4 linked regions of the Homo sapiens genome follow. The protein of the gene in region 3 purifies or fractionates together with the protein of the main gene of each other region. This does not show direct contact. Each region holds a gene or a part of one and is shown on either strand. Other genes may lie near its edges. The genes, in order: AKAP11, PALM2AKAP2, PRKACA and AKAP5.

What was found.
Region 1: the proteins of PRKACA (region 3) and AKAP11 purify together in Homo sapiens (affinity purification with mass spectrometry; 5 studies listed by BioGRID and IntAct, with this or other methods). This does not show direct contact.
Region 2: the proteins of PRKACA (region 3) and PALM2AKAP2 purify together in Homo sapiens (affinity purification with mass spectrometry; 5 studies listed by BioGRID and IntAct, with this or other methods). This does not show direct contact.
Region 4: the proteins of PRKACA (region 3) and AKAP5 purify together in Homo sapiens (affinity purification with mass spectrometry; 6 studies listed by BioGRID and IntAct, with this or other methods). This does not show direct contact.

Annotation. Positions count from the first base shown.
Region 1 is NC_000013.11:42,296,129-42,303,151, forward strand, and holds part of AKAP11 (A-kinase anchor protein 11), read left to right. Parts: intron 1-919; coding exon 920-1,054; intron 1,055-2,404; coding exon 2,405-2,669; intron 2,670-3,234; coding exon 3,235-7,023. UniProt on the Homo sapiens protein: Binds to type II regulatory subunits of protein kinase A and anchors/targets them.
Region 2 is NC_000009.12:109,775,267-109,783,219, reverse strand, and holds the start of PALM2AKAP2 (PALM2-AKAP2 protein isoform 3 (PALM2-AKAP2)), read right to left. Parts: upstream 3,023-7,953; 5' UTR 2,733-3,022; coding exon of another isoform or gene 2,732-2,732; coding exon 2,687-2,731; intron 1-2,686. UniProt on the Homo sapiens protein: Binds to regulatory subunit (RII) of protein kinase A. May be involved in establishing polarity in signaling systems or in integrating PKA-RII isoforms with downstream effectors to capture, amplify and focus diffuse, trans-cellular signals carried by cAMP.
Region 3 is NC_000019.10:14,100,740-14,107,762, forward strand, and holds part of PRKACA (cAMP-dependent protein kinase catalytic subunit alpha), read right to left. Parts: coding exon of another isoform or gene 6,972-7,023; intron 6,671-6,971; coding exon 6,609-6,670; intron 6,150-6,608; coding exon 6,021-6,149; intron 2,176-6,020; coding exon 2,077-2,175; intron 170-2,076; coding exon 87-169; intron 1-86.
Region 4 is NC_000014.9:64,461,191-64,468,515, reverse strand, and holds the start of AKAP5 (A-kinase anchor protein 5), read right to left. Parts: upstream 3,018-7,325; 5' UTR 2,903-3,017; intron 385-2,902; 5' UTR 122-384; coding exon 1-121. UniProt on the Homo sapiens protein: Multivalent scaffold protein that anchors the cAMP-dependent protein kinase/PKA to cytoskeletal and/or organelle-associated proteins, targeting the signal carried by cAMP to specific intracellular effectors.

The sequences.
Region 1 (7,023 bases), on a different chromosome or scaffold from region 3:
ATAGGCATACTTTTCTTTTTCCCTCGTGCTGCTTCTTAAAAATTTGTGATTCCTACATATTTCCTTTTGTGGCAGTAAAGTGTCTCCTCATAGAGGAGGAAATAACATTTTTAGGTCTTTCTGAATAATGCATATCAGGTGATTATGGGCAAAAACTGCTGTATATTTTGATTGTGGCCTTGCTTGAAGGAAATAATTTGGACAGAAGGAACAAGAGAGGATATATTCTTGAGAACATACATAGCTGGAAAGAGAAGTATTCCAAGATATTTCTTTAATGTTCTTCTTCTCCTTTAAGAGTTACTGATAAAACCATGTTTATAAAGGAAAGTACTCTACAAAGGGTCAAAGACTTTAATAATTCTTTAGCTGGGTAAAATATTTGTGTATAAAGGGCAAACAAGAAGAAGAAATAAAAGCGATTTTCTTTTCCTTTAATCTTCATTAAAATTATCAGTTAAAGTCTAATACAATACCTTGGAGAGGAAAGATAGAAAAACGGATTATATTGTACAGAGTTTTTAAAAAAAAGTTTTTAAGATGTACATTCTCTAGCAAAAAATTTTGTATGAAAAAAATTTCATAAAGTTAAGTTAAGACCTATATGTTGACATTGCTAAAAACTATTAAATGCTTAATTGTCATGGATGTGTTAGGTACCCTGTACAATTTTTTTATAGCTTGATATCAGTACATTTTAAAGGCTACGGGGATAGCCAGTATTTAATAATTTTAGTATATTTTATTTTTGAATTTTTGAAAAATTATCTGTGAATAATAAACTGTATATGTTAACTATTATGAACCAGGAAATTCACTAGCCAGTAGACCTTAAAATTTTTGGATAGGGTCCACATTATAGGAACCTTAACAAAAGTGTTACTCTACAGTGTTACTTATTGTTATTATTTTAAATCAGGATTTAGCTGCAGTTTCTTTGGAACTTCCAGATATTCTGAATTCACTCCACTTCTGCAGTCTAAATGAAAATGAAATTATTTGTATGAAGAATATAAATAAACCATTAGATATAAGCAGTGATCCTCTAAATCAGGTAACTTTTGTAGATAATTTCTAATGAGATTTTTAGGGCAAATTTTACTATATTTGATAAAGATGATTAAACTTTTAAATGCTTGGATGACATTTGTTTTTTTTAAATGGTATCTCAAGGAAATATGATTCATAAGAAATATAACTCATGAAGCATTGACATCCCTGAAGGATATAATAATTTTGGTCATATCTTATAAATTATATTTTTTAACTGTGAAGTTCCGTAGATGGTATGCAAGTACATGTTAATTTTTTCTGAAAATTTATTATTTCTGGATTTCTTGAACTACTTTTACCTTTGTATAAGCTACAGTGACTTTTCCCTATTATGGCCAATTTCAAATTTATATAAATGTTACGCTATATGTTTTAGAGAATGTACTTCAGTTCATTTTCTGGTTTAAAAAAATTCCATGTAAAGTGGACATCTGATGTGTTCTTTATAAATAAAAATGTTACCATTTCTTACAGGTGGTTAGTTTTATAATATTCAGCATTTAGTTCTTTACCAAGTATGATTTTGTTGATAATGCATCAGAGAAAATGCTTTGCATTCTAAGAGATAAGACATATACAATTGAACCAGAAAATTTAAAATTTGGATTATTTTAGTTTTAAAAAAACTGCTATGTTGTTCTTTATAAGGTCTGCCAATAAAACTAGAACTGCTTGCTTCATTTCCTTAATTATGTTCTTTATTCGTATTTGCTTTATTTGCTAGGATATAAGAGGTGATAAGCTATTATATTTGATTTCTAGTTTTTTGAATAAATAATTTCATCAGTATTTACTTGAAAAAAGTAGTATGAGGGGGAAAATCTGGTTACTTGTATTTTTAAAGCTATAAACATTGTAAGTTGTAATGCTAGGGAAATTTAAGTAAAAGGAGTAGACTTTTAACAATTGTGATAGGAAGGAAGATGGCATCATACTTGAAACTACGGGAAAATGGGATTAAAAATAAAAGAAAATAGAACTTGGTTGCTGCCCCCAAACAATTTATAATAGTTAGTGAGATAGGTGAATGATTAAGGAAAATCATAGGGCTGTACAGTAATACAGGAAAACATAATTGCTCAAAGGAATGGATAGTAAGTTTCATAACATTTCAGGAGACTGGGTAGAATTTGAATACCTGGATAAAAGAAGATGGGAGAAAAAAGGACTGGAAAGTGAAAAATGTAGAGAAAGAATTAAGAAGTAAACATTACAAAACCAAGGAGCTTTTCAGGATGCATGAATTTCTTGTTTGTTTTTTTCTCTGAGATTGTCTTATATCTAGGCTTTACTTCATGTTGTTTTGTATTTGAAATTAAAATTGTTTTTATTATCTTTTATCTTTCCCAAGAGTCATCCTTCTGGAATGCTTTGTGTCATGAGAGTGTCACCTACATCACCAAGACTTAGGATTGATTTTATCTTTAGTCTCCTAAGTAAATATGCTACTGGTATAAGGTACACCTTGGACACATTCTTGCATCAGAAGCACCAACTTGAGACCACTGATGAAGATGATGATGATACTAACCAGTCTGTGTCATCCATAGAGGATGACTTTGTCACTGCTTTTGAGCACTTAGAAGAGGAAGAGACTTCAAAGCCATACAATGATGGTTTGTTTTTCATTAGACTTTTTCCTAAAATAGGGAATTAAAATTTTTCAGTTTTGAAAATTTTAAGGCAGGCTTGTTCAGTTGAAATTTATGTTGAGATTTGATTCAATTTAAACCTTTTAACTTTTTTTCTGATTACCTAAGGAAATTCCTTATGATTTTTAAGTTCATTGTAATCTGGTTTTCAGTTTTGCTTATTTCAGGTTTTCATATTTAGTTGGTGCTGTTCACGCACTGGTTACATCATTAAGTGTCTGGAACATTCCTAGGTTCCAATTTTGGAAGAGTTAGCTGGCAGAGTCTCCACGGTAATTTTTCTAACATGCGTGACAGCATGCAAAACATCCCATAGACCAGGTATCCCTAGACATAGAGTAAACTGAAATTATTTTATAAACAGTATATTTACTTTCAAATGTTACTTGGGTGAATCTTTCTGTTAAACATAGTTTAGAAGATACACATAAATATTATATGTTTAAAGTCAGTTTATTCCATGGATTTAAGTTAATTTCCAAAAAGTTTTGTTCAAAAATAATTTCACCATTTCATTCTTTTCCTATAGGAATGAACATTACTGTGCTAAGGAGCCAGTGTGATGCTGCTTCCCAGACGGTTACTGGTCATCATTTAGAAACCCATGATTTAAAGATTCTCATTAGCTCTGGACAGCAGAAGTCATTGGCTAAACCCTCAACTTCCTCAGTGAATGTCCTGGGACATAAAGAACTACCTTCTGTGAAAACTTCAGTCACAACATCAATTTCAGAGCCTTGGACCCAAAGGAGTTTCTATAGGTCATCTAATGCTTCAGATAAAGATAGTGATTTACAGAAAACATTTTTTTCGTCTTCTCCTGCCTACTCATCTGAATCAGAATGTTCAAGTCCAAGTCCTGTTATTTTCTTGGATGAAGAGGGATATCAAAAAAGCTTAAAAGCAAAACTTGAGCTGCCTAAAATTCCTGTGATGAAAGATGATATAGAGGATTCAGACTCAGAAGTAAGTGAATTTTTTGATAGTTTTGATCAGTTTGATGAACTAGAACAAACTTTAGAGACTTGCCTGTTTAACAAAGATCCCGTCATAGGGAAGTCATCGCAGAGGAAAGGGCACAAACATGGAAAGTCATGTATGAATCCTCAAAAATTCAAGTTTGATCGTCCAGCTCTCCCAGCTAATGTTAGAAAGCCAACTCCTCGTAAACCAGAATCTCCATATGGTAACCTGTGTGATGCTCCGGATTCTCCTCGCCCAGTGAAGGCATCAAGGGAAGATAGTGGTTTATTTAGTCCTATTCGATCCTCTGCTTTTAGTCCTCTTGGAGGCTGTACTCCAGCTGAATGTTTTTGCCAAACAGATATTGGTGGAGATAGGATTCATGAAAATCATGATTCTGTTTATTACACCTATGAAGACTATGCAAAAAGCATTTCATGTGAAGTACTAGGCTCAGTTCTTCGTACCCACCATACTAATACCCTATCAAATATTAACAGTATTAAACATGGAGAAAATAAAACTGTAACTTTTAAGCATGGAAACCTTGATCAAAAAAATAAATCTAAAAATAAATCCTTAATGATTAAAGATAGCATTCAAAAATTTGCAGCAGATCTTGTGGAAAAAAGTTTTGGCAGTGCATTTAAAGACTTACAGAAAGGAGTCTCTTCATGTACCAATGCTTTGTACCACTTAGCCATCAAATTGACATCATCTGTTTTGCAGATGGCATTTGATGAGCTGAGAAGGCAGCGTGCATTTTCACTAAAAGAACGTGCCATTAGTGGCCTGGCTAACTTTTTGGTGAGTGAAGCTTTATCAAATGCCTTAAAAGATTTACAGTATGTAAAGAAGCAGATATTCACAAACACAGTTGCTAGGTTTGCTGCAGATCTTGCTGAAGAGCTTGTTTTTGAAGGCATCATGGAGGTGTGTCAGTTTTCATATCCTCAAACGCCTGCATCTCCACAGTGTGGGTCGTTTGACTTTGAAGACAAAGTAGTGAAGTTGTATGCAAAAGATTTGTCTGAATCTGTAATACAGGAAGCATTCATTGAGCTATCACAAGTTGATGTGACCTTTACAACAAAGGCAGCAGTTAGTGTCTCTACGGATAATATCAAGTATGTGAGTGCAGAAAGTGTAGTGCCATCGACACAGGCTGTCACGTTTTCCCCTTCTTTTCACAATCAAGCAATTATGGTGACAAAACCAGTGCAGGAATATAAAAAGGAATACACAGTGCAGCAGGCCTTGTTTTGTACTTCTGGAATTGTTACTTCTATACCGGTGCCCTTGGCAGGAAGTGCCCTTCTCCCATATCATATTTCATCTACTGCATGTCAGGCCAAGGCTCATCTGTCATCTGATGATAGTAATTCAAATGGTGATTCTGCCCAAGTGCATATTGCCACAAAAAACAGAGAAGAAAAAGCAGCTTGTCTCAGAAATATTTGTTTACCTTCAGAACACAATCCAGGTAATCAGAATGATTTTAAACCAACTAATGACGATATTGAAATGCAGAGTTCCTCAAAATTACCAAATGATCCTGCAATTATTAGCAACTTTTCTGCAGCAGTGGTGCATACGATAGTAAATGAAACTTTAGAGTCAATGACATCATTGGAAGTTACAAAAATGGTTGATGAACGTACAGATTATTTAACTAAATCTTTAAAGGAGAAAACCCCTCCATTTTCCCACTGTGATCAGGCAGTGCTGCAATGCAGTGAAGCTAGTAGCAATAAGGACATGTTTGCTGACCGGTTATCTAAATCTATTATTAAACATTCCATAGATAAGAGCAAATCAGTGATCCCAAATATAGATAAAAATGCAGTATACAAGGAAAGCTTGCCTGTTTCTGGAGAAGAATCACAGTTGACACCAGAAAAGTCTCCCAAATTTCCTGACTCTCAGAATCAGTTAACTCACTGCTCACTTTCAGCTGCAAAGGATTGTGTTCCAGAATGTAAAGTTTCTATGGTTCATGGATCCTCCCTAGAGACACTGCCATCTTGTCCAGCTGTGACAGGTCAGAAATCTGACTTGAAGGAATCTGCTAAGGATCAACCACTGAAAAAGCATAACTTGAATAGTACATCACTTGAGGCCTTGTCTTTTGGACAGGAAAACCCCTTTCCTCATTCACATACTTTCTCATCTACAGCACTTACCTGTGTAGATGGTTTGCATGTGGAAGATAAACAGAAAGTCAGAGACAGAAATGTAATACCTGATACTCCTCCATCAACTCCTCTAGTACCATCCCGGGCTAGTTCTGAATGGGATATCAAGAAGTTAACTAAAAAGCTCAAGGGAGAATTAGCCAAAGAGTTTGCACCTGCTACACCACCTTCTACTCCACACAACTCATCTGTTGGTAGTTTGTCTGAGAATGAACAAAATACTATAGAAAAAGAAGAGTTCATGTTGAAACTCATGCGATCTCTTTCTGAAGAAGTTGAGAGTAGTGAAAGTGGAGAGCTCCCAGAAGTGGATGTGAAGTCGGAGCACTCAGGGAAGAAGGTTCAGTTTGCAGAAGCATTAGCTACACACATCCTTTCTCTTGCAACTGAAATGGCAGCTTCCCATTTAGATAACAAAATAATTCAAGAACCCAAGGTTAAAAACCCTTGCTTAAATGTGCAAAGTCAAAGAAGTGTGTCGCCTACTTTTTTAAACCCCTCAGACGAAAATTTGAAAACATTATGCAATTTTGCGGGTGATCTGGCAGCAGAAGTCATTACAGAAGCTGAGAAAATAGCAAAAGTCCGAAATTGTATGCTTTTCAAGCAAAAGAAGAACAGTTGTTATGCTGATGGTGACGAAGATTATAAAGTAGAAGAGAAGTTGGATATAGAGGCTGTAGTGCACCCAAGAGAAGTGGATCCGTTTATTCTTTCATTACCACCAAGTTCTTGTATGTCAGGTCTGATGTATAAGTATCCCAGCTGTGAAAGTGTGACAGATGAATATGCAGGTCACCTTATTCAGATACTAAAACAGGAAGGTGGTAATAGTGAGTTGATAATGGATCAGTATGCCAATAGGCTTGCCTACCGATCTGTTAAATCAGGATTACAGGAAGCAGCTAAGACAACCAAAGTGCAGTGCAACTCAAGAATGTTCCCTGTGCCAAGTTCACAAGTGAAAACAAACAAGGAACTGTTAATGTTTTCAAACAAAGAGCACCACCAAGAAGCAGACAAAAAGAGACAAAGTAAAAGAAATGAAGGTTACTTTTGTAAAAATCAAACTTGTGAAAGGACCCTGGATCCATATAGAAATGAGGTCTCCCAACTGTATAGTTTTTCAACCTCTCTGGTTCACAGCATAACAAAAGATG
Region 2 (7,953 bases), on a different chromosome or scaffold from region 3:
GACAGCTACCTGCCAGGTGCTTCACCTCCATCCTAACTAAACCTTACAACCAGCCCAGGAGGTAGAACTCATGAACCCATTCTACAGATGAAGGAGCTGAGACCCAGACTAAAGACTGCCCAAGGCCCTGCAGACTGGAATCCCAGTCGATTCTCTGCCTCTGAGAGAGAAGCCCAAGTAAGTGAAGATGTGAGGACCTATTGTCTTCTTCCCTCACATCTCCAGAGAGACTTCAGGAGTGCTAGGTTCTGGGGGCAGGCTTGTGATCTCCTCAGGGTCCCCTGAGAACTCCAGGAAAGTGATGAGAGAGTCAGGGTTTGCAGAATTCAGAAGAGTAGGCACTAGACCAAAGCATAGCATAAAACCATTTACCGATGTGGCCATAAGTCCCCCCACCCAACTCCCTCTGTCTCTTAATTGGCTCTCTCTCTCACACACACATACACACACACACACACACACACACACACACACAAACAAACACACGCTGTTAGCAAATCTGTCCTGACAACATCATACAGTCATCCCTCAGTATCCTCAGAGAATTGGTTTCAGGACCCCCTTGGATACCAAAATCAAAGGATGCTCAAGTCCCTATAAAATAGCATGGTATTTGCATATAACCTACTCACATCCTCCCACATACATTAATCATTTTCAGATTATTTATAATACCTAATACACTGTAAATGCGACGTAAACAGTTGATTATACTGTATTATTTAGGGAATGGTGACAAGAAAAAGTCTGTACATGTTCAGTACAGACTCAGCTATCTATTATTTTTTCCAATAGTTTCAATCCAAGATTGACTGAAGGCGTGGATATGGAACCCATGAATAGGGAGGGCAGACTGTATTAGGTGCACATTCATGAGAATAATCAACAGCTCCCCAGATACACAGGACAAACTCAATTCTTCAATAACTGAAGAGGCACAAGTGAGTATTTGTGTGTATTCTTATATGCTCAAGAGAATTCCCAAAGATTTGCCTAGATCTTTCTTGGAAAATCGACTTGGCCTCTGCTGGGATTACTCAACCGCACTTGGAAAAGGGTACCCCAGTGTTAGCAGCTACTGGCTCCATGTTTGGAAAGCAAGTCCTTTCATGGAGTTCAGCTGTTCCTCAGGCATCCAGTAAAGCTGGTTGTGCAAAGGCAGAAAATGTGACAACTGTTGGAAGCCTTCAGCAGCAGCCAATGGGAACAGCCACTGCATCAACAGTTAAAGCAGCCTATTATCCAGTTCACACAAAACACCCACCAGCTACATGGCACCATTAACTCAATATCACCATTCTTATCAAGTTCATGACACACTGGCCATGCTGCCTTGCCACCAACTTTAGAAACCACAAATAACTTCACAAACCATCAAAATACACATGCACAGGGGGAAAGAGAAAGAAGAAAAAAACAACCTTTCTGAGTTCAGAGCACCACGTTCAAAGATTACCTAATAGGCAAACCATGGCATTTCAATATTGCCAGCAAACATCTCTCTCACTTCAGTGGTGAAGTCTCCAAGACATTTCAGATTTGAGGCGTTTGAGAAAGAGGGTCTCAGAGCCTTGGAGACCATGTCAAATGCTTCTAAAAAAGGAAGGGTCTGTGTGCATTTTCCCAATGAAGAATCTGTCCAAAAAGGTTTTGGAAAACGCTTTAATATACTTTGGTTCCAAAACATTACACACTATTTCTCCAACAAATTTATATGTGTTTCCAGAGAACTTCCGAACTGAAAAACACAAATGTATTTAGGTGGAAGAATGTCTGGAGATTCTTTTATGCCAATATGTTAACGGACCTTCTTTTTTAATTGTTACTATTTCATACGGCAGCAGTAATCATTCCCTCATCCTCGAAGGAAATATATAATCCAGCTGTGGTGGCTCCAGTAAAAATACCACATCTGTGGATCATTGGCAACACTGTGTTAAGATTGCTCAAATCTAGGCAGTCTCAGAGAGTTCTTTTTTAAACCCAAGATGCACATGGGTACACTTTTCTGAAAGTGCCTACGAACTTTGCCAAAACTGACTACTCCTTTGTAGGCTGAAAATAGGTTTTCAGATACTCCACACCATAAGAAGGAGGCTCTCATGGAATATTATAACCAGGACCCAGTTGTATGAAGTCCCCAGACCTCCAGGGTGGTGGCTTGTGCCAGTGCCCTTGTCAATATCAAACAGAGAAGGGAAAACTAACATTCCCGGTTTCTGGGAGGAGGTTCTACCGCGTGGCTGGCTGAGTCGCTGACTCCTGGTTTTCCACTTAACAGGAGGACAGCTTCCGCAGAGAGGATGGCAGCCACCGTTCAGGTCACCCTTCTCTTGGTTCTCCAGGCTATGAAGCCAACGTATGCCTGAGCATTCGGTCATAATATTCCTGGAGTCGTCCCCCCACCCCAAGCCTCTGTTTAGTCCTTCCCCAAAGCCCAGCAGCAAGCATCTTTTTTTAAGCCAATCTTCCACATTCAAATCCTCAGTCCAAAGCGCGCCCTTGGGGGTCTCCATCTATAGACATAGAAAAGAAAAGGCAGCCTAGCTGAGCCCTGACAGAGTTTTAGCCCCTGGAACATATGACCTGCGGCTACTGTGCTGGCATGCCGCTTGCCCCGAAACCCTCGGGGGCCCCCTTCCACCCCAGACAATAGAGCAAGAAAATAAAATGAAAGTGGACTTACTGCTATGGCTTGCAGCCTTTCCTTGTGCAATTCCGCCTCTGCCATCCTGGAGAAGGGCACACAGGCAGGGGAAAGAGGAAAGAAAAAACACACGCTGTAGTCACCCAAGGAAACTGATGGGCACCCCGGGGGGCTTTGCTAGAACCCGGGAGAACGCCCAGGGACGGCTGGGGATCCGCTCCAGGGGCGGCGGGCAGAGCTGTGCGCACGGCGGGCTCGCCCGGGCTCAGCCTCTGGCCCCCGCCCTCCCGGCCGCCTGGCTGCGCCCCAGCGCCGCCGCTCACTGCATCTCCCGGTCGCCGCCGCCGCCGGCCGCGCCAGCCGAGGACGTGGGACGCCGGCAGCCGCCGGGAGGGCGCGCTAGCCCGGCGCTAGTTCTCCGCCCTGACGTCTCGGTGCCTCGCTCCGCCCCTGGAGTGTGATGGACCCGAGGCCGCGGTCCAAGGCGGCTCCGAGCGATCGCCGCCGCGGGTCTCCAAGGCGCAGACGGAGGGCGCGCGAGCCAGTGGGCACCTGGGGCGCGGGCGCACGGCGAGCCGCTGGGGCGCACGGCTGGCGTGGCGCGCCCGCGTGGACACGCGCTTGCTGGGGCGGAGGCAGAGCGCAGTGGCGCCTCCACCGGGCAGATGCCAGTGGAGAGGGGCGTCTGACCGAATGTGGGACCCGAGCACGTGCTGTTACGTGGGGGCTGGGGCCACCGAGTGTTCAGGGCACCTTCTGGCTCAAGCCAGACGCTTGAGCTCCACGTGGGGACATTTACAATTTGGGAAGGGCTGCCTTGCCCAAGTGGCCCACATGCTTAAGATGACCAAGTTCTCAATATCAAGTCGGCCGAGGGTAGGGTATATCTCCAGAGAGGCCACCCTTCTGGTGAGGCGATATGTGGCCTTAAAAGAAGCCGAGAGTTTTTAGTCCTGGGTGCTAGACTAGATTTCACAATGTGTTAGCTGTGAAATCTCAGGCAACTCGCTTAATCACTCTGAACCTCAGTTTCCTCATCTGAAAAAATGGAGGATCACATAGGTGTCATTAGAGACGAATGAGAGACAGTATGTAAAGGTGCTTTGTAAAGGGCATCACAGACATCTGCTCTTATTATCCTGTGACATTCTGGATTGAAATCCTTTCAGGGTCTTCTGTTCATTGCATCTGAAAGGAAAAGTAGGATCTACTCACTAAAATATTTCACCTATTCTTTACTAAAACAGGATACCATGTGGTACTAATGTGAGTCTTTTGTGACAGGTCCTGGACTGGATGTAAGAAGTGGATCAGGCCCAGTCCAAAAGGAGATCAATGCCAAAAGCAAAAAAAAATGCCTCTTCACATTGAGGCAGGACCTGCTAGAATTCCCAACATTCATATGCAAACGTTTCTTCATCAAATGAAATAAACACTGAAATAACTAATATGGCCTCTTTAGAGCCATAGGATTTAAAGGCATGTTAAAAGATATACACATCAGGCCAGATGCGGTGGCTCACACCTGTAATCCCAGCACTTTGGGAGGCCAAGGCGGGTGGATCACCTAAGGTCAGGAGTTCGAGACCAGCCTGGCCAACATGGTGAAACCCCTTCTCTACTAAAAATACAAAAAATTAGCCGGGCGTGGTGGCAGGCACCTGTAATCCCAGCTACTTGGGAAGCCGAGGCAGGAGAATCACTGGAACCTGGGAGGCAGAGGTTGCAGTGAGCCGAGATCACATCATTGCACTCCAGCCTGGGCAACAAGAGTGAAACTCTGTCTCAAAAAAAAAAAAAAAAATGCACATCAAATTTTCCCAGATCACCTGTTTCCTGAATAAATGCTTCCATTTCAACTAAATTGCCCTTTCAATTTTCACAGAGGTTCACCTGTCACTGATGAACAATTACTCCTCTGACCAAAGATGGAAGCACTCACCAAAATCGTTTACTGATGGATTGTTTTCCCATCTTTTTCATAACAAGTGTAGGTGGAGCTGATTGTTTAATAAATCCAAGCCAGTGCCAGATTCTACATCCCACTCCAATATATCAGAAACTTCTACTTTCTGGCTAAGCCCATCCTTTTCTTCAAATGCATCCTTTTTTCTTCATTTCCAGCACAAGCCCCAGCAGGACAAGTTATTTAAAGGGGTTTGCTCACAAATAAACAAAGCTGTTATTGCTTCAGCAGAGTGATTGTAGAGAATACTAAGATGAGGAAAATGAGACCAGAGAGGTTGAAAGACTCAGCTACAGTTATAGAGCTGGGATTTAAACTCAGATCACACTCACCAGAGCCCATGCTCTTAACCATTAAGCACCAGGCTTGGCCAATGATATGGAGATAGAAGCAGGCCCCAGGAATAAACAATTGAACCAGAAATGGTCCTTCTACTCCCAGCTATACAGATATTTAAAAGGTATGATTGAGCACAACAGTGTGAATGTACTTACTGTCATCAAACCATATGCTTAAAAGTGGTTGAAATGGTAAATTTTAAGTTTTGTATTTTTAACCGCAATAAATTTTTAAAAGGAGTGATGGAATGGGGAGATGGAGAAGGAAAAGGGCCTGGGCACCCTTTGGAAGTGATCAGTTGGAAATATCTGAACTCTGAATAGAAGAATCGGGGTTGGGGACACACATCCAAGTGTCATCTACTTTGCGGTTACAGCTAAAGAAATGAGAACAGCCAGGATGAGAAAACAGAGCAAGAAGAGGAGAGAGCCCAGCAAAGAAGACTGATAAAGTATCATCCGAGAAGTAGAAGGAAAAATTCAAAGGGATTTGCACCAAAAGCCACAAAGAAGGAAAGAGGTTTTCAACAGGGTCATATGCTTCTGAAAGGTCATGGGGGATGCAGATGAAGAAGAGACCATTGGAGGGCTGTCAGTAAGCCATGAGTGACTTGTGTCCAGAAGATGAGCTTGGAAGCACTTACAAGAGGTGAGGAATGACTGCTACCAAGTGAATGTTGAAAATAAAACAAACAAAAATGGGGATGAGCGAGAGATCAGAGAAGCAACCATGAGTACAAACTGCTTCTTTCAGCTCTTCAGATGTGAAAGATGAAGGTGGAGAACAGGAACATAGCCCATGGGAAGCAGGGTCTAGTGGAAAGGGTTTTTAGGTCAGGCAAGACTTGGATGTTTGGGGGTCAAAGCAAATTAGACAACAGGGAAATTAGGCCAAAGATACAGTCAAAAAGGAAGGTGAATATTAGTCAAAGTCTCTAATTAGTCAAGAGGACATTCAGATGAGCATCACATTAGCCAGTTAGCCTTGGGAAGAAGGAATAACGAAGTAGGGAAGGAGGAAGAAATGGATAAAGACAAGAAGAAAGTTTGAGTTCAACTCTCAGGAGAGAGGTTAAGTGAATTTGCATCAGATGGACTGGTTTTCCCAATTGAACAAAGAGTCATTGATTAAGACTGATGGCGTAGGGTTGGGGCTTCAGAAAAATAGAAATCGTTTGTAAAGAAACTGTGAAAGATGAGAAAGACTAAAACATGGTTCCTAATCAGAAATCTGCATCAGAATCTCCTGAAGACCTGTACAGAATTAAATTTCTACAGGGTGATGTGGGAGTTAGGGATGGGTTTAGAACCTTTGTACTAATTGAATTTACTAGGAATAGACTAAAGACTCATGACCAATAGTGTGTACTTCCTAAGTGATTTTTAACTGCCCTGAGACCCACAATAAAAAAAGCTTGTGTTTATTCAGTGTTGCGGATTATCAAAGCAGGTAAGACAAAAAGCCAAAGAAGAGAGGAAATTCAAAATGCTTCTGGCCAGGTAGGAAGTGTAACAGACTTGTTCATATACACATTTTTTTTTCCTCTGGCTGGCCAATTTGTGAACTCCTTCCCATCTTTGGGGATTTCCCATATTAAAAGCCATAGTGAGAGGCAGAGCCACATCCTGTGGTAGAAGCTGGGAGGTATCAGACACTTGTTCCCCAGATCCCCCTGAAGCCATGGTATGGCAGGCAATCTCGGCTCAGTCAGGCATGTGTGCCTGCCAAGAATTTTGGAGACTGAGCATGTTAGAGAATTCCTTCAGGCTATTAGTTCACCTTTGGTTGTACCCATTGCCCAAGCTTCCTTCTTTGGACGTTCCATCTCTCCTGTGAGCTATCTAATACAATTTCATTTCATTCTTTTTCTGCTCCTATCAGCCAGAATCTATTTCTGTTGCTTGGGACCAAGAACCCTAGGTGAAACAGGAAGGCACATGAAATGACTGCCTGATGGTTGGCCAAGGAGCAGAGGGAAAATCTTTTTTCCTCTTCCAGCACTTCTTTCAACTTTCTAAATTTTAGTATTTTAAAATCTTTGAACCCATTACAAACACAGGCATTTAAAACCCAAACTATGCTATTTATTTAATAAACATATTGTATAATTATTTTATATTAGATGTTTGGCCATGGCCTGGTATTAAGAAAAAAAATCGTAGTCTAGTGCCACAATGATATTGGTGACTATTTGCCCTCCAAACATTTAAAATCTGGATATATACATCACAATGATGCATAATGTATGTAACAAATCACTAGTTCTTGCTGGGACATTAAATTGTGTTGCATAAACACCATCTGTACGGTTTAGTGGTTTTTATGATAGATGCTTCATTGCAAAGCATTATACGAAAAGGATACAGAATGCTAGATATGCAAAATAGATGTTTTGTTAATAAAAATTTCAGAATCTATTTTAGAACATGAGTCCTTTGAGAATCACAAACGATCATAGCCAATTCCTTTGTGGGGAAAACAAGAGCTCTGTATACCAAAAGGGAAATGACTTGCCAAGGCCCGTTGTGTGAGTAAAAGTCAGTCTTGTTGAGCAAGAGCTATGAGTGTGACATTTCCCAGCAACCTGAAGCTTCCCTTGGACAAAAGTAATTTTGAAAGGAATGCCAGGATCCCCTCAAATGTTTATATTTGTGTTAGTTCTTTTTTGCCTGGGATCTTTTGAAAATAAATGGTCATTTAAAACATATGTGATAGCTGCACAGAATCAAAAGAAGGAGAACATTGCCTGTGGTCCTCTTGGCTCCTGTGGTTGTTAGCTCTTTGGGAAAGTTGATGGGATTTCAAGTATATGCTATTTTTCTCCATGGGATCCAAATGATAGATTCATTTAGGGAGTCCCCATGGAGCAAGAAGATAGAAAGAAGTCAGAAAACAGCACCATTGTGAAAAATAAACTAGGCTGAATGTTGCTTAAGGTATATAGTGGCTAAGGTCTTTACATAGCAGATTGAAAATGAGCAATTGGAAATCTGGCTAGAAA
Region 3 (7,023 bases):
TCCTCTGCATTCCCAGGGGGCTTGGTCGTGCACTGCCACCTGTGGACACCCTGACAGCCTGATGTGATGGGGGGTGGCCCGCTTACCTGAACCTTCCGATCCGCCGTAGGTGTGAGAACATCTCCCCGCCGGGCACGTACTCCATGACCATGTATAAGTTTGAGTTGTCCTGTGGGAAGCAGTGGCTGGTCAAGGGCCCACCCCTGAGACTTGGACCCGATCTGAAGGCCTTGGGGGCCTCCCCGGCTGGTGTTCAAACATTAAATGACAACAGCGATCCTGGCTCCCTGTAGGAATCATGTTCTACAGGGGCGACCCTTATCCTGCTGTTAATGGGTGAAAGTGAGGGCTGGCTCAGAGGTATGTCAGGACCTGGTTAGCCTGCCTTGGCTGGAGAGAGAACTCTGTAGTACCTTGCTCTGGGAGCTTGAGTAAGGCTCTGAGGCCACAGTTTTGTCATCTGTAAAATGGGATCATGATAGGCTGCAGAATTAGTGGGGCCCAGAATAAAAAAGATGGCCCCTGGTTAAAAAATTATTACAGAGGGTCGGGTGTGGTGGCTCATGCCTGTATAATCCCAGTACTTTGGGAGGCCAAGGTGGGTGGATCACTTGAGCCTAGGAGTTTGAGACCAGCCTGGGCAACATAGTGAGACCCCGTCTCTGCAAAAATACAAAAATTAGCTGGGCATCATGGCGTGCACCTGTAGTCTCATACTCAGGAGACTGAGGTGGGAGGATTGCTTGAGCCTGGGAGGCAAAGGTTGTGAGCTGTAATTGCGCCACTGCACTCCAGCCTGGGCAACAGGGTAAGACCTTATCTTAAACAAAACAAAACAAAATGGCCGGGCACGGCTCACACCTGCAATCCCAGCACTTTGGGAGGTCGAGGCAGGCAGATCACCTGAGGTCAGGAGTTCAAGACCAGCCTGACCAACATGGGGAAACCCTGTCTCTACTAAAAAATACAAAATTAGCCAGATGTGATGGCACATGCCTGTAATCCCAGCTACTCGGGAGGCTGAGGCAGAAGAATTGCTTGAACCCAGGAGTCAGAGGTTGTGGTGAGCTGAGATCGCATCATTGCACTCCAGCCTGGGCAACAACAGCCAAACTCTGTCTCAATAAAAAAAATAAAAATTAGGCTTGGCACAGTGGCTCATGCCTGTAATCCCAGCACTTTGGGAGGCCAAGGCAGGCAGATCACTTGAGGTCAGGAGTTCAAGACCAGCCTGAGCAACATGGCAAAATCCTGTCTCTACTAAAAATACAAACATAAGCTGGGCATGGTGGTGGGCACCTGTAATCCCCGCTACTCAGGAGGCTGAGGCAGGAGAATTGCTTGAACCCAGGAGGCAGAGGTTGTAGTGAGCCAAGATTGCGCCACTGCTCTCCAGCCTGAGCAACAGAGTGAGACTCTGTCTCAACAAAAAAAAATTATTACGGATCTCAAGACAGCAGCAGCAGCAAAGCGTTAAACCAGGTGTGGGGTCCCTCGGAGAACAGGCCCTTGTGCTTCTCTGGGTCAAACGTCCATGAAGCTGGCCCTGAGTGGCCTTTCCTGTTTCTCATGACCACAGCTTTGGATGGCACCCAAAACGGCTCCCAAAGGGCGCTCAAGACGTGCCTGGAACTGTCATGACAACCCCACCAGGCTGGAACTGGTATGATCCCCATTTTACCATGAGAAAGCTGAGGCTTGGGGAGATAAGTCTCTTGCCCGGGGCCACACATCAAGAAGTACTGAACTGGGAAATGAACCCCGGCTGCCTGGGGCAGAGTTTGTGCTCCTGGGTCAGGCTCTTACCATAAACCAGGTGCTGCTTTTGAGGGATGTTACTGAGGTTGGGTGACTCACCAAGGGTATCGAACTACAAACTGGCTGGACCAGGAACTGAACTTGGGTCTACCAGAGTCCCAGCCTGACTCCTGTCCCCTGATCTCCCTCCTCCAGGGATCTTGTTCTTCCACAAAAGAGAGCAGCCACTGATTGTCCTCAGCTCCGACCCCAGCCCTGGGGGCCAGAAGGCTGGGACCCAATGCAGTGACCCCCCGCCCTTGGCCACTGGGACCCCACCTTGAAGGAGAACTCGAGTTTGACGAGGAACGGAAAGTTGACAGCTTGCAGGATGCGCTTTTCATTCAGGGTGTGTTCGATCTGTTTCAGTTTCACCACCTGGGAAGGGAAGGAGGGGAGGGCAGAAAGGAGGGGGAGGTGAGAGGGGCCTCATTTCCCCTAATGCCTGGAACTAGGGATGCCGGAGCCAGGCCGGTTCCTTCAGCCAGAATCATTTGTGTGCCTGTGGCCTGTCGGGCCCTTAGCTGATGCTGAGGACACAGCATCAGGGAGGCTAGGGGCTGCTTGTCCTTGCACGGCACTAAGTCCAGGGCAAAGAATACATGGGTTACCCCCACAGAGGTCAGAGCCGTGGTGGAGGGTATCTTGGGGTTGTGGAGAAGCAGCCCCCAAGAAGCCCATGTAAAGTACCTGGCGTGGTCTGGGGAAGGGGGAATCAGACAGCGCTTTCTGGAGGAAGGGGCAGCTGAACTGAAATTGAAAAGACAGGCAGGAGAAGCCCAAGAGGTGGGGGGTTTAGGACCTGCCTTACCCTTGTCTAGAACACTCCACACAGCAACCTGAACCTCAGGCTAACAGCTCCTCAGCCATCAGCTGTCCCCTAATAGCAGATGCCATGAGCAGGCACCTGGCACCCAGTCTCTCACTGAATCAGGATAGAAGCCCTAGAGGCCCATGCTGGGAGTACGCCAGTTTGGAAGACCAGACACAGAGGGGAGGTGACTTGTCCAAGGTCACACAGCTGGCTGATGTCAGGCTGGTGTGTAACATGTGGCCAGCCTGGTCCCTCAGTCAGCTGTCAACTGCTTTGCTCACATAGCTGTGTCCTCAGAGTCTATACCTGCCCTACCCAGTTCAGTCCCCATTAGCCACAGGGGGATGCTGGGCCCTTGAAATATGGCTGGTCGGATGGGGAGCCAAATTCAAAAATTTTAAGTATCTAAAATATAAATTAAAAAACTGACACCAGCTGGGCATGGTGGCTCACGCCCGTAATCCCAGCACTTTGGGAGGCCCAGGCAGGTAAATCGCTTGAGCCCAGGAGTTTGAGACTAGCCTGGGCAATGTAGCGAGACCCCATCTCTACAAACAACAACAAGGACAACAAAAGCAATTAGCTGGGCATGGCACGACTATGGTCCCAGCAGCTCCAGAGGCTGAGGTGGGAGGATCATTTGAGCCCAACTGCACTTCAGCCTGGGCAACAGAGCAAGACCCTGTCTCAAAAACAAAACAACCAGGCCGGGTACGGTGGCTCACGCCTGTAATCCCAGCACTTTGAGAGGCCGAGGCAGGTGGATCACGAGGTCAGGAGATCGAGACCATCCTGGCTAACATGGTGAAACCCCGTCTCTACTAAAAACACAAAAAATTAGCCGGGTGTGGTGGCGGGCGCCTGTAGTCCCTGCTACTCGGGAGGCTGAGGCAGGAGAATGGCATGAACCCGGGAGGTGGAGCTGGCAGTGAGCTGAGATCACACCACTGCAGTCCAGCCTGGGTGGCAGAGCGAGACTCCGTCTCAAAAAAAAAAAAAAAAAAACAACAACCAGCCAGGCCAAAATGGTGAAACCCTGTCTCTACTAAAAATATTTAAAAACTGGCCAGGTGTGGTGGCTCACGCCTGTAATCCCAGCACTTTGGGAGGCCGAGGCCGGTGGATTACAAGGTCAGGAGATGGAGACCATCCTGGCTAACACGGTGAAACCCCATCTCTACTAAAAATACAAAAAATTAGCCAGGCGTGGTGGTGGGCGCCTGTAGTCCCAGCTACTCAGGAGGCTGAGGCAGAAGAATGGCGTGAACCCGGGAGGCAGAGGTTGCAGTGAGCCAAGATCGTGCCACTGCACTCCAGCCTGAGCGACAGAGCGAGACTCCATCTCAAAAAAAAAAAAAAAAAAAATTAAAAAATTAGCTGGGCGTGGTAGCCGGCGCCTGTAATTCCAGCTACTCAGGAGGCTGGAGCACAAGAATCGCTTGAAACCCGGAGGCAGAGGTTGTAGTGAGCTGAGATCATGCCATTGCACTCCAGCCTGGGCAACAAGAGCGAAACTCCATCTCAAAAACAAAACAAAACAAAACAAAACAAAAATTAAACTCTTGATGCAGGTACTGGTGACTTTCAGGCATGGTTGGAACAACTTGGGCATGTGAATCTGCTTTTTCAACTTCCCTGCTTTTTCTTATCTTTCCAGGAAAAATTTACCATCAGAGTTGAGAACTGTTGTAAGCATACAATAGACACTGGATTTTAAAGATACTTCAGTACAGAAAAAAAGGAAATATTTCCGAAGTCATGGAGGACTGGGAAAAAAACAAAAGGAATGTAAAATGTTTCATTAATGATATTTTCACATTGATAATATATGGAAAGGGTAATACTGTAGATATACTGGCTTAATTAAAACATATCATTAGGCCAGGTGTGGTGGCTCACATCTGTAATCCCAGCACTTTGGAAGGCTGAGGCGGGCGGATTACCTGAGGTCAGGAGTTCGAGACCAACCTGACCAACATGGTGAAACCCCAAGTCTACTAAAAATACAAAAGTTAGCTGGGCGTGGTGGTGGCACCCATAATCCCAGCTACTTGGGAAGCTGAGGCAGGAGAATCACTTGAACCTGGGAGGTGGAGGTTGCAGTGAGCTGAGATCACGCCACTGCAGTCCAGCCTGGGCGACAAGAGTGAGACTCTGTCTCAAAAAAAAAAAAACATAAAAAAAAGCCCCAAACATGTCATTAAAATGAATTTCATGAATGACACCTGTTTCTTTCATTTTCTCTTTTAATTACAAACTTTGGGTGTTTTTTTAGAGATGGGGTCTGGCTGTGTTGTCGAGGCTGGAGTTGAACTCCTGGGTTCAAGTGATCCTCCCACCTCAGCCTGTCTAGTAGCTGGGACTACAGGCGTGCGCCACCGTGCTTGGCTGTTTTTACTGTTTATGATGGAGCAAACAGAAAATTTAAAATTGCTTCTGTGGCTCAGGTTACATTTCTGCTAGTTACATTGCTGCTTTATAGCAGTGCCTGGTATAAAGTCCGATCACAAAAATATTTACGGGAAGAAAGTGCACATAAACACCACTTCCCCCAAGAGTGCTCTTGTTCTCCTCCTGTTGGGCTGGTGTCTGACCCTGTGTCACAGTGCCTGGCTTTGAATCCATGGCCGGCCTGGAGAGGGAGCTTTGGGAAGGCGGCACAGGGCCCTTCTGACCCCTGGGGCTGGCACATTATGGGGGCTCGGGGAATAGTGGGTGAGCCTGGCATGGTGGCTCATGCCTGTAATCCCTGTGCTTTGGGAGGCTGAAGTAGGAGATCACTTGAGGCCAGGAGTTCAAGACCAGCCTGGGCAACACAGCAAGACCCCCTGTCTAAAACAAAAAACAAACAAACAACAAAAAAAAATTAGCCAGGCATGGTAGTGTGCGCTTGTAGTCCCAGCTACTCAGGAGGATCTCTTGAGCTCAGGAGTTTGAGGCTACAGTGAGCTATGATCACGTCACTGCACTTTCCTGCTTGGGCAACAGAGCAGGATCCTGTCCCCCACAAAAAAACCAAGCGGCCAGGCGCGGTGGCTCACGCCTGTAATCCCAGCACTTTGGGAGGCTGAGGCAGGTGTATCACCTGAGGTCAGGAATTCGAAACCATCCTGGCCAACATGGCGAAAACCCATCTCTACTAAAAATACAAAAATTAGCTGGGTGTGGTGGCAGGCGCCTGTAATCCCAGCTACTCGGGAGGCTGAGGCAGGAGAATCGCTTGAACTAGGGAGGTGGAGGTTGCAGTGAGCCGAGATCACGCCACTGTACTCCAGCCTGAGCGACAGAGCGAGACTCTGAATCAAAAAAAAGCAAGTGAGTGAACGGGTGGATAGGGCACTCTAAGGAGTGGGCACAGTCCAGGCAAAGGCCTGACAGGCAGGCCCTGAGCGAGGACAGGCCACCTCACCTTCTGTTTGTCGAGGATCTTCATGGCATAGTGGTTCCCGGTCTCCTTGTGTTTCACCAGCATCACCCGCCCGAAGGAGCCCGTGCCGAGGGTCTTGATTCGTTCAAACTGATCCAAGTGGGCTGTGTTCTGTGGGCAGAGGGGTCGGTAGGCTCAGGGCACGCCCTCCCCGCGGCCTGCTTGGCTAAGGTCTGGGGCATCCCCTCTGCCACCGGCAGAGGGGGCCCCGGGGAGCACGTGGGGTCAGCGGGGTGAGGACAGGGGGCGGAAAATCAAGATGGCAGAGGGCACATTCCTTAAGGCGGGTGGCAGGGGCCAGATCCGGCCCTGGCCTGGGGCCTGGAAGCTGCTGGCAGCTGTGCTGGGGGCAGGGGCGGGCCGTTGGGAGGGGTGGTGGGATGGGGGTGCCTGGCATTGGGCAGTCAGGTGTCTCCACACAGGAGCCCCCATGGGCACCTAGGGAGCAAATGGGGAGGGTCTGAAGCCTTCTATGGGGTTTCTGAAATTCTAGCTGTGTTGCTGGGACACAGCCAGGGGCTGGGGGTTAGCAGCTCACCCCTCCCTGGGCTCTGCACCCGGCAGCCTTACCTGAGCGGGACTTTCCCATTTTTTAAGAAAATCTTCTTTGGCTTTGGCTAAGAATTCTTTCACTGAAAGGGAGAGAGGGGAGAGTTATACAGAGACGCCCGTCTCACCGGGGTGGGTTCAGGTGATTTCTGGGGAGATACTTGGTGGAAAGTGGGGTGCAGTTCCAACCCAGAGCCTGACCTTTTTCTGGTGCCTCTGGGGCCTTGGCTGGGCCGTGGCCTGGGCCTCCCTTGCTACAGAGAGGTGGGATCCAGCTGCCACTCCATCCAAAGTGGGGTACAGAGAGTCTCAGGGGTCACTCGCAGGGGAACGGAGGGAGGTGCCCAGGCAGACCAGCCCACCCCCACTCGCCCCAGTTCTGACCGACATTCCATGGCCAGGGCCGACGCCAGCCGAGGTATTTATAGCCTTGGGA
Region 4 (7,325 bases), on a different chromosome or scaffold from region 3:
TTCTTCTCTTGAAGCAAAGCATGGATGCCTTTTCCTTCTGCCTTTCAGCCCCAGGACTACCTTCTGCTGATCTCTTCTCATCCTTGTTTTCTACATGAATTTCTGAAATTGTGGTTTCCATTTTTACACTGCACTCTTATTCTCTAGAAAACTGTATTCTCTCTTCCTTAGCAGCCTTTTGTGACAAAAAGATGAGCAAAAATGTCACACTAGGTAAAATTTCTTCCAGGCATATTCATACCTTTCATCTTACTCCATACAGTTGTTTTAGGTGGTTTCTCTAGTATAGAAATGCCCAGTTTCTCTATGGCTTGTAATTTCTCTCTTTAATTTCTTGATGAAAGCCCTTCTTTGGATAAATTTTTGCTTTATTTAAAGATCAACCTGATGAGAGAAAAGAAAGTGGTATTTTATTTCACTATGAGCCTATTATTTTCTGTGGAGACTATTTCAGTGAATGTATAAGATTCTACCAGGCATATTTTCCATATAATAACTTAATGAAATGACTGGAGAATAAACATTGGGGTTTACTTTGGCCCTATTAAAGAGTTCAGTGTGATTCTATTTTGTTTTATCCTCCTTGTTGAAACTTCATTTTGGATTACCCTGCAAGTCTGATATTATCAGTTCTTTAGTTGTGTTGTCTGTGTGAATTGCTTATGACTCTAAAGTGCAAGTTAAGCAAACAACAAGAACCAAAAATGAAGTGCAGGATGAAAAGCAAGCTGATGTAATCTTTATCACACTCAATAGATAATTTTAAAGCTGCAAAGGACTTTAGAGATTATTTGAGATTACTCAAATCCAGCCAGATGACAAAACTGAACTCCAGAGGGGAGCAGTTGTCTTGTCAAAAGCCATGCAACTAGATAAGGTCATAGCCAGAGTTAGAACTAGAGACTTTGACTCTCTAGTTTTACCATTATAACATAAGGTTTCTGTTCTAAAAATGTATGTTCCATCAAGGAAGTGCTATTTTTCATACATATTCTTAGGAAAATTTAGCATTACTGTCATTTCCCACTCTTAAATTAGTTGTACAATTTTGACATTTTCATTTAAGTACTGTATCTGCTGTATCACATGTTTCCACCATAATCTGCACATAGTTGGAAGTCAGTAAGAGTAGTAATAGCTGACATTTATTGAGCAATTCTTGGGTATTAGGCAGTGCATGCACTTTTACATACATCTCTAATCCTCACCACAATATTACAAAGATGGTGGTATCACCACGTACAGATGAAGCAATTTGGCTGAGATTACGGCAGAGCTGTAACAGAGCTCAGATTAACACAAGATTGCTTGTTGCTTAAAGCTTATGTTCTGAAACTGGGCTTTAAGAGTTTCGTCAGAAAATGAATTGTTTGGGGATACTAATCTGCAGTGTTTCATTAGTAAAAAAATTAAAAAATTGATTAATGGTCATTTAACCATAAGGCACTTATCAACTCATAATTGAACCACGAGTAGACTGAGTTCTTGTCATTTGAAAACCAAGCTTTTGAAATTCTTTATATTTTATTTTTTTGGTTCAGGAACTAATTTAAAAGCCAAAAATAAGTTGGCAAACTATGCAATTGGCAAACTTAGATAATATAAAGGTGTATTGAAAATTTAATCCTTAGAATGGTATGATGGCACCAAAGAATGGAAATGGGAGGTGATTATCCAACAAAGATCCTATGAATTTTAGTGGGTGGATGCCCTAAAATAAGCAAAGGGACTCATTCTTTATATTGTTTTTATGTAAATCCTTCACTGAAGTTTCATTTGGGTAACCCATAATTTTATGAACTGTAGAAGGAACTGGAACCCTGAAAATCAGTTTATGATCTAAGTAAATATTATCTTAGGTTGGGTGTTTCATACTGTGTGCCTCTAACAGAAAGATAAAGTCATTCTAGAACAATGACGGAACTAAAATATGAACATTTGACAGTGTTTCTCCTCACAATGTTTCAGTGAGCACTAGAACCTAAGCTGATAACTGTTTAAATCTTCTCACCTCTTGTGAGTTTTCAGCACCTGAGCATTTTTGTTAAGCAGAGGCTGTATTACCACATAATAGAAATATTGAAATGAGATGTTTAGGAGTCTGTCATTGGAAACTAACCTGGATTGCGCAAAGACAATCGTTTGAGAAGCTCACTTGAATGTATCTCACATACTAGAAATAAAACGAATACCCAAACAGAAACTTAACTAACGAGGGAAAATAATGCAGTCTGTAGACAATAAAACTTTGCAGAATGTCAGACTGCAAATGATTCGCTCTTAACCAGCAAGGGTAGCTTTATCGCCTCAGGAAATCTTAAAGTCCCTGTGCTCATTTCCTGATGGAATTGCAAGTCTCATGTCACAGAAAACACCCCCTTTCCTTTTTCCCTTGAGCAGCCAGTACCCGAGGAAAGCAATGCATCTTTCCCAGCACCAGATACGGACCACGAAGCTTCCTCCTGGAGGAAGGAATCTCGAATTCTGGCTTGACGCCCCTTATGGCAGGAGACAGAGCGCAGGATAAAGTACTCAAAAAGGAAAATGCCGGGGGCGTGGAACAGATAACCCAGCTTCAGGCTGTCTGCAGAATTATAATGTAATGGCCAGAAACCCAAAATCACATTTCTCAAAGAGGGATAAAGAAGGAAAAAAGCCACCGGCAACCCATGCTTCTAAGACAAGCTGTAACGCGAAGGGGATAGGTGGGCAGACCTGATGAGGGTCGCCCTGGCCGCGGATTCCAGCGGACAAGCGACCTCCCGCGTTCTTACTCCCAGCACCTCAGAGGGCTCGGATACCCCGTATCCAGTGGGCACCTCTTGCCCACTCCGCGGTCCGCGGACCGGACATTGCCCCCGACCCTCCTCCCCCGCAGGCTCCCCGCCCTGCCTTTACTTACGTAGGGCGTCGGGGTCCTTGGCCAACACTGCTCCCGAGGTGGCGGCGCGCTCGCGGGGCCCGCCGCCCAGGCCTCCAGGGAGCCGCGGTCGCACCCGGAGCAAGGCGCCCTCTGCAGAGCCCGCCGCCGGGTGCGCCCCCTCCCCACCGCGCGGGGACAGACAGCAGGCAGCGCCAATGCGAGCGGAGCGGAGCGGGCGGGCAGGGGCGGGGCGACCGCCGGAGGCGCGGGGCGGCGCGGGCGCCGGGACCCACCTGCAGCAGCAGCCTGCCTGCCTGCCGCGGGGAAGCCCATCGTGCTCCGCCCGGGCGCCAATCTCCACTGCCAGACCACATCAGCGCCGAGGCGGGGACCGCAAGAGAGCCAGCCGGAAGGTTCGGGGGGCGGGGGAAGGCGGGGGGGACCAGGGCAATGAACCCCGCGTTTTCTGAGACGCTAAATAGTGAGGTCCGGTTTCAAATTATAGACAGTCGCATTACACATCTCCTCTCCTCCCCCTCAGAATATTTAAAGACAAGGCAGACATCGCATTTTAAAAGCAGGATTCAAAACTGTGCATAGAATAGCGAGGTCATGTTTGTTTGAAGCGAAAATTACATATATAAATGGAAACAGAAAGAAACCCGACTTTCTCAGGAGTGGCTTGAGTGTCAGATCATCGTGGTTCATCGCCAAACAGGCTTTCAAACCTTTGTCTCCCAGTGGGAAGCAGGTGGAGGTGATTGGTGCAGAACTTTGGCCTGCAGGAGCAGCTGCATCTCTATGCGGACAAGGTGAGAAAGGCACAGGAACCCAGCTCCATCCATCTTATACCTTACATAGTTCCAAAAATAAGTTGAGGTAGCTTACAAGTTACCCATGATTCCCTTCAGGACATTCCCTATGAGGGCATTCCTGGGAGCTCCAGCTGTAAAATCTAGTAGGATCCATCACAATCCCAGCCTCCTCCTCTGGCCCCCATAGCATAGCATCCAGATGAAGAACCTGGTAAGGTGAAGTGAAGAACTACTGAAAAGCAGCCGCGTTCATCTCCTTTCTTCAACAGGATCACGACCTTAGGGAGTGTAAATGTCAGGTGTCCATTTTTGTATTTTTTCCGGAAATGTTTTATATTTGTAAGATTCTGTAGTTTCCACAGAGGCTTATCAAGGAAAGAACTCTTGAGACACAAAAGCAAAGCCAAATATAAGCTGTCAAGATCTTAAAATTACAGATAAAAGAGGCAAGAGTTGTAAAACAGGAAAATCCATAAGCATCTAGTTTAGTTGTAATTAAGAATTCAGGGATGGGCGCAGTAGCTCACACCTGTAATCCCAGCACTTTGGGAGGCCAAGGCAGGAGGATGGCTTGAGTCCAAGAGTTTGAGACCAGCCTGGGCAACATAGGGAGACAAAAAAATCTAAAAAATTAGCTGGGCATGGTGGTGCACGTATGGTCCCAGTTACTCAGGAGCTCAGGAGGCTGAGAAGGGAGGATCACTTGGGCCCAGAAGGTCAAGGCTGCTGTGAGCCACTACTGCACCACTGCACGCCAGCCTGGGCAACAAAGTGAGACCCTGCCTCAAAAAAAAAAAAAAATTCAGTCAGCCTTGTTCACTCAGCAAACACGTCTATCGAAATGGTCTGCGTATCTCTCTATGGGTTGCTAGCGCTGCTTGTTGCCAGTTTTGAACTTTAAGCCAAAAGAAATCCATTATGCTTATAAGCAATTGAGAACTATTCCTTATTGAGATCCAAGGTTTCTCAAAACTAGCAGACCTGGGAGTTTGCAAGAGTTTCAGGCAAAAAATAAGATGAGCTTATTTAGGTGAAGACAGGGTAAAATAGCTGTCTTATTTTTATTTTTATTTGAGACAGGGTCTTGCTCAGGCTGGAGTGCAGTGGTACAATCCCTGGCTCAAGCAATCCTCCCACCTCAGCCTCCCATGCAGCTGGGACCACAGGTATGCGACCACATGCCCAGGTTCTTCTTCTTTTTTTTTTTTTTGTAGAGATGGCGTCTCCCTATGTTGCCCAGGCTGGTCTTGAACTCCTGAGCTCAAGTGATCCTCCTGCCTTGACCTCCTACAGTGCTAGGATTACAGGTGTGAGCCCCCATGCCTGGCCTTCACTTGCCTTTCTTTTAAACAAAATTAGTAAAAGGGAACTGAAAGGCAGTTTGAGGTGAGAGATGAATTTATTTAGTATTTGAAGGGCAAATTCGGACAGACTTCCTTAAGGTATATTACAAACAAGTCATCCCTGACCTCCACCAACACACATACACACAGAGTCACTCACACAGAGTATAGTACTATAAATAACATAGCGCACCATAGTTTTTCTTTAGGATATGACTAGAACTCAATGCCATATGTGTGTGTGTGTGTGTGTGTGTGTGTGTGTGTTTAATGTATCCAGTACCTCATGCATGAAAGAAACCTGTCATTCCTGAATTCAGGTAAGTGACAACGAAGGCTGTTTAAGCTATTACCCATATCATTGTCTACTACCCCATTAGTAGCTTTTCATTATATAACAGGAAATAGGCTATAAATGTATTTCTGCAATCTGATGAGAAATTATCCTACCTATAGCTTATCATGTTAATATCACTAGATACAGTGTGCCAGTAAAATAGCTTACATATTTATCTGAGCAATACTCTACTGATCTTACCATTTATCCCATCTTGATCTCTACCCATTGCCTGGGCCTATAGCTACCAAAAATGACTTATAACTCCTTGTTAATAGCTCTTACATTTCAGAGGCCTTCTGGGAATAAGCCCTCCAACCCCGTTCCCTGGGACACCATTGAATGAACCTGAGGCTCCAAGTCTCTGGTGGTTTCATCTGTTCCTGGGCACCATGAGGGTTGCACAGAGCCAACACAAACTCAATAGTAATACTGTTGCAATCTGTTTAATGTGGCAGCACATAAATGCTATCTCTTTTGAATTAAGACTGTGTGTACATCTTCAGTGCACAGAAACAGCCTCTGAAGTGAGATCAGAGAATGTACAATTTGTTTATCAGTAATATTACTAATAAGGGGAAGGAAGGCATTAGCAGCCCAGAGAAGAGAAAGGGCACGGGAAAGCCACTAATCTGGAGGGACTCTTAGCACCAAGGTAAAGGCACTAGACCTTCTCTGCCAGCACATGCTAATAGTTACCCCAAGCACTAATGCTTCTATAGGTCTTTTTTATTTTGACACAGGGTCTTGCTCTGTTGCTCAGGCTGGAATGCGGTGGCTCAGTCATAGCTCACTGCGGCCTCGAACTCCTAGGCTCAAGCAAACCTCTCACATCAGACTCCCAAGGAGCTAGGACTACAAGCGTGCACCACACACTCAGCTGAGTTTTGGGGTTTTGTTTTTTGTAGAGATGGGGTCTGTCTTGTCCAGGTTAGTCTTGAACTCCTGGGCTCAAGTGATCCTCCTGCCTCAGCAGCCTGGACAAGACAGTGAGACCCCATCTCTACAAAAAACAGAACTTCAAAACTCAGCTGAGTGTGGTGGGATTACAGGTGTGAGCTACCATGCCCAGCCCCTACCAGTATTGAGGATTTAAACCCATGTGGCTGTTGGCGATATTAGGAAACCTAAATCCTTTAAGATGATCCTTAAGTCACCATATCTGACAAGACTGCATCCTTCCCTTGTCTACAAAATGAATTCCCAGCAAATCCCATTCCAGGTGAAGTTTCACAGGACATTAAGAAATGTACCAGAAAGCGGTCGGGCACAGTGGCTCACGCCTGTAATCCCAGCACTTTGGGAGGCCGAGGTGGGAGGATCACTTGAGGCCAGGAGTTTGAGACCAGCCTGGCCAACATGGCAAAACCCCATCTATACTGAAAATACAAAAAATTAGCCAGGCATGGTGGTGCGAACCTGTAATCCCAGCTACTCGGGAGGCTGAGGTGGGAGAATCGCTTGAACCCGGGAGGCAGAGGTTGCAGTGAGCTGAGATCACGTCACTACACTGCAGCCTGGGCAAAAGAGCACGACTCTTGTCCCAACCCCCCTACCCCCCCTGCCAAAAAAAAAAAAAAAAAAGGAAAAAAAAAGTACCAGAAGCAATTAACTCTGCAAACAGGGCCTGGAGGATGCTGTGCAACAGGAACTGACAAGTGCTTACAATGTGCCAGGCCCTGTACAAAGCATCTTAGATGATGTGTTTGAGTAATTCCAGAACCGCCCTCACGAGGTAGGTACCAACAGTGCTCCTATTTCCATGGTGAGGATGTGGAGGCAGGGAGGTGGGTGAGGCTCTCTGCCATAGAGCTGGGGCTCTGCACTGTGACCCCTTTGCCATATGCCTCTCAAGGCAGCGCTATCATTTCTGTGGACTGTAAAATTGACTGTATTACAACATTGACATGGACCTAGGGAATTAAAAATAATAAAACCAAGGTCACTGGGAAAAATACTGCTTTGCC